2 separate regions of the Homo sapiens genome follow, and region 2 is linked to region 1. The links come from fine-mapping of genetic effects on gene expression. Tissue or cell type: minor salivary gland. Region 1 holds a variant in brackets; the other region holds the start of a gene. All regions are shown on one strand. Distances are between the middles of the regions.

Evidence for each region. PIP is the estimated chance that this variant, and not a neighbour inherited with it, causes the effect.
Region 2: TSPAN8 starts here. The variant in region 1 is fine-mapped to the expression of TSPAN8 in minor salivary gland (GTEx, PIP above 0.99).

What each region holds. Positions count from the first base shown.
Region 1 is chr12:70,885,845-70,888,533 of GRCh38, forward strand. The region is part of intron 2 of PTPRR (protein tyrosine phosphatase receptor type R); the gene reads right to left. Among named protein-coding and RNA genes, the nearest start is that of PTPRR, 34 kb to the right of the region's middle. The variant A/G (reference allele first, on the strand shown) is at 1,084.
Region 2 is chr12:71,156,674-71,159,362 of GRCh38, forward strand. It overlaps TSPAN8 (tetraspanin 8), which reads right to left and starts at 1,326. Exons shown (of 9, transcript NM_004616.3): 1 at 1,257-1,326; 2 at 946-1,114. The coding sequence starts at 1,005.

The sequences.
Region 1 (2,689 bases):
TTTATTTCCGCTTTTCCTTATCTAAACTTTCTAAATATTCTACAACTGTATGAAAATGCATAATTTTTGGAATTAGAACAAAAATATTACTAAGTTATTCCCTGCTCATTCACTGCACCTGGAGAGCAAGGCCTAATGACAATCAATTAAACCAGCTCTCTTAAGACTTGAGTCATCCTAATAGTGAATGTGTATGATCCCAAACAAGCAGATGCACTGAGTGGTCCAGGGTTGTAACCTCACACAGACATTGCTGAGGCTTAGCCTCTAGCTTTTCCAGAGTGCATTCCAGCATCGTCCTTGCTGCTTTAATAGCTAGAAATGGTGAAAAGCAACAGATGGTGACAGTTATGACTGTCAGGATGCCAAGCTCAAGAACGGAATTTCTACTTCAGGACTATTTTGCAAGGATACAGTAATAGCTGGGGAAATCTGAGCATAAAGCTTTCTGCAATGCTAGTCTGGCGATTATATAAGAAGGTGATTATATAAGAAGATCTTATAATTTAATAGGAAGCATTAACATTAAGTTAAGAGCAGAACAAAAGTTCAACCAAACTTCTGGAGTAGATCATTGAATTTCTTTTTCTAGGCTTTCTTAAAAATAAAATCTAACTGAAAGCTGTATTTTATTTTTTATTAGTATCTGTGAAATGGCTATTATGGATCCTTTAAGTCAACTCAAATGATTTTGAATCCTGGGAATAGATTAAGCAATCATCAATATTCATTGACTAGCTATTTTGCATTTGCTATTGAAAGGTTATAGATACAAAACAAGTATATTTTTAATGGAATTTCTACTCTAGGTGGGGAGAGAAAATGTAAAACGAGATCATATAATGGGTAATTAAGTGTTAAAATTGCATATTCAATCATATTTTCTTGATAATGAGATGTACTATTTATTTAATTACAAGCTTTTGAATTGTGTTTCTTTTGGCATCAACTCATTCTTTCATCAAATAAATAGTTATGAGCCCCTATATCATTGTGGTCACTGGAAATACAGCAGGAACAAAATAAAAAAATCTCAACATTGTGGAACATACATTATAACTCGGGAAGAAAGAGACATAAAAG[A/G]TATTAGCTAGAAGTGCTTCATAAGTACTAAGAAGAAAAATAATGTAGGCAGGTGGACATAAATGTCTTTGGAAGCTGTAGTTTTAAACAGTGTCACCCTGGCTAGGTGTAAGACAGTGCCCTCCTTCTTTCAGTGATGGCGTATGTTCCCAATGTTTATTTTCTTTTTGGTTTTACATTTCTACTTTTGAAATTTGTTCCTGAAAACTATCCAAGCTGTCTGTTAAAAATTTAAGTAGGGGCCAGGCTCAGTGGCTCATGCCTGTAATCCCAGCACTTTGGGAGGCTGAGGCAGGTAGATCACTTGAGGTCAGGAGTTTGAGACCAGCTGGGCCAACATGGTGAAACCCCGCCTCTACTAAAAATACAAAAAATTTAGCTGGGCGTGGTGGTCCGTGCCTATCGTCCCAGCTACTTGAGAGGCTGAGGCAGGAGAATTGCTTGAACCCAGGAGGCGAAGGTTGCAGTCAGCCAAGATCGCACCACTGCACCGTGGCCTGGGCAACAGAGCGAGACTCTTTCCAAAAAAAAATTAAGTAATAAGGTGAAGAAAAAAGTAGGAAATTTACTGCAGGTTGAAGTAAAAAAATGCAATAAGAAATCTTTCATCATCTCAGTGTCCAAAACAACTGCATTCTGTTATTTGACATTTATTTATTAATTTAAAAATAATTAATGAGCCTTCATTATGTGCTAGACACAAGATTTGCAGGAAGTATATTATTCTAGGTAGAACAGCAAGAGTAAAATTCCTGATTCAGGCAGGAATAGGCTCACTGTCCTGAGGAAGAGAGAAGGCCAGAGCAGTTTGCAGGGAGTCAAGGAGAGGTGGAGTGGTAGGAGATGGACTCAGAGACACAGGGATAGGCCAGGTGGTGTGCTATGCTTCCCAAACCTCTGAAAACCCAAGTATCCTCCAGAATGCTTCCTGAATGCATTGATTCCTAGGATCCATCCTAGAACTATGGAATCAGAATCCTTAGGCAAGAGTTCTGGGAATCTTGGATCCCAGGTGATGTAGGATATAGGCCATGGGAAAATGTTTGAATTTTAGTTCAATGGCAATAAGAAGGCAGTCGTGAATGTGTGTATGTGTGTGTGTGGGTGTGTGTGTGTGGTGTGATATGATCTGATTCAAACTTTCTGCAGATCACCATAACAAAAATGGGAAAGAGTGGATACAGTGACTAGTTAGCAGCATGTTCCAATAATTTATTAGAGAAAGAAAAGCAAAAAATCAGAGATAATAGTTTTGTTGTTGCCACAGGCTTGCTGTAACAATTATATGAGATAATACTCGCATAGTTCTTAGCATACTATCAATGTTTTATGCTTAGCAAAAAATAATTTACTTATCACTATCATGATATCTTTTGAAAAAAAGCTATTCAATTGTTCCAGTCTCACATGGTCAATAATATTTTCCCACTCACTTGTGATGCCTCCCTTATCATTCTTTAATTTCTCATATGGACTCAGATTGCTCTATGATTTCTACTTTTCCATTTGTAAATTTGCATGCATGTACTTTCAGTAGTTGTTGTTTAACCAACTTTCTTGTGTTGCAACTTTTAAAATCAGATTTATTCTCTTAGGGCTTTATATG
Region 2 (2,689 bases), 270 kb after region 1:
GGTATGAGATGTCTGTTTACTAAAGATCAGGTACAAAAACAAAACCAGAGTTCTTTCATCCTTGGAGTGGATAAGGTAGCTTTTAATCCAGTATACAAAATACTTTTTTCATTTAAATACTTTGTGCTATTTCCACTGATTGACATTTAAACAATCTTTAATTGTACCATATATGCTAAAAATGATAAGGTCAATGTCCCAACATCCCAGCCTGCTCTTTTCATACCTTGTTTTTCCATTATCTATTGATAGATATCAGTTATCAATTTGTTGGTTATGTCTATGTCAATGGACTTTCAAGAGAAACATAACAAATTGCTAAAATACAAATCCTGTCAATTAAAAGGTAGGGTGATGACACATCAAAATACTGACTTTAAAATGCCAATACATATATATATCCACGGTCTTAGTTTGATTTTCTTATGATTTAGGAATTTTATCATTTCCCCCTCAAGTTTTTCATGACCCATTTTTTTTGTCTTTGAGGCTCTGAAAATGATCTTTATTGTCCCACACCCTGCGATTCACCTGTTCAAACCCAGAAGTGAAGGGCGGGAATCAGGACCCGGGCTCCGGATGGAATCAGACCATGTTTTTACCACAGAGTCCTTAAATTAGGGAGGCCTGCTTGATATACAACTAAGGAAAATTGTCCTTTAATTAAGGGGCATTTGTGTTCCTCTGTGATTTTTTTTTGCAGCAATATGAAAACATTTATGAAATGTTTATCCTCACATTCTGAAGTGCACTTTTTTGAGTCCTTGGCTCATTTTCAATTACTGAAATAACCAAAGAAAGAACAAACAAATCCAAACAAGTACATGGAAAATACATTTTCCCCCTTCTCTTATTTCTCTAGTGTACAGTCTGTTCTTGTTTATGATATTTATATCAAGATCCCCTTTCTTGCATAAAATTGATAATTAAAAGGAAAACACTTACCCAGAACAAGAAGTTGAAGGTAAACATAGAATATTTTATACAGGCACTCACACCTGCCATTTCGGAAAAGGATTAGGAATCCAGATGCCGTGAATTTAACTATTCGTTACAGGCTTGTCCTGCAATATGCTCTGGAGCAACTTGCCTGCAGAGATTTCTGTATCCACGGCTTCAGAGCAGAAAGAGAAAGCAAAGAAGTAGAGGGAGGAATAAAAAGTTATTAAACTGGATAAAAAAATTAACCCACACATTTAAATATCGCAAAGGCTATTAACCCACACATTTAAATATCTCAAAGGCTATTAACTCACACATTTAAATATCGCAAAGGCTATCTCCAGGCAAGTATGTTCCTTTGCTTGTCATAGCTCCTGGGGCACTGGGCCAGGATATTTATGATCCTTTCTCAAAAACTGCCTCCTCTAAAGTAAACAGATATCAAGTGAAGGGAATGGCACTGGATCAGGCAAGAGAATGGCACAGTGCTACTAAGTTCTTGGCTTTCAGAAACCACTGCCTGACTTCCCCGCCCTCCATTTCAACTATGGGGAAATAAGGTTGTTTTGTTCTGAGTTAAATGGACATTGTATCTCTACTCATTTTTGCATTGCATTTTCTCAATACTACAAAATTCCTTCTAAATGCAATAAAATGCATTTAGAAATCTGCAAAATATCAAAGCTTAGACATAGCAACCTGTTATCATTAAACCTAGAATAGTAAAATAACCATTACATGTATCTGCCCTCCAAAACATCTAAATTTATTTCAAAAGAATTCCAGAGCTGCCGTAAATACACCACAGAAATTGCAGAGGGAGAGGCAGCCTTGCCTATCATGATAAGACCATTTGCTTTTTATCTTTATTTCTTTATGATACAAAGGGAAAGAAATCATAAAGTGGCACTGACTGCAACATTGTTTTCATTTTATAATGCGTAGTCATTCTGATAGCTTGGTTTGTTTTTAAGGTGGACACTGTAATTTCCTTCCTCTGATAAATTGTATCTAGCAACAGCTGTTCTCCACCAACTCAGTTTCTGGATTCCAGGTCCTCCCGGACAAAAAAATTCAAAATGGGAAGGTGGTCATGGATCAGTGACCATAGATTTTACTATTTGTTTCTAGTGCTAATAGAAGGCAGCTGTCTCAGGTAAAGGCAAAATGCTCCGACATCATCAGGGAGGTGTGGACTGCTTTGTGTAAACAGCCTGGGTCATGTTAGTTTCCACATCCTGCCTCTCAAAGGGAGTTCTTCTCCCCCTAAATAAAAGAACCCTCTACTTTAAAAGGTTGTTGAGAAAATTATTCTTTAGAATCTTTGCTAAGTTTTACACGATAAGCAAGCATGAACTCCTTACAAAAGAAAAATATTATTTCTAATTTTCACTGGCATACAATGTTTTTGAAACAATTCTACTCCCTGACTACAAATACAATATATTTTAATGCATTATCAACAATAATATATAGCGTTAAAGGCCAAATTTAGGATTAATTCCAAAAATAATGGCTTAATATATAAATCATCACTAAAATTGTTTGTGTTCTCTTTCCTACTAGAAAATGGATAGTTTCACAACCTTCTATTGAGATATTTTGTATATAGAATAATCCAAGGCTGAAAGAATAATTTCAGATTGAATGAAAACCAAAATTGATTCATAGTCCCAGAAATGATTATTTATCAGAGGCTAAAATTAAAAAAAAATTACAGATTTAAATGCTGCTTTGTTGAAAAGAA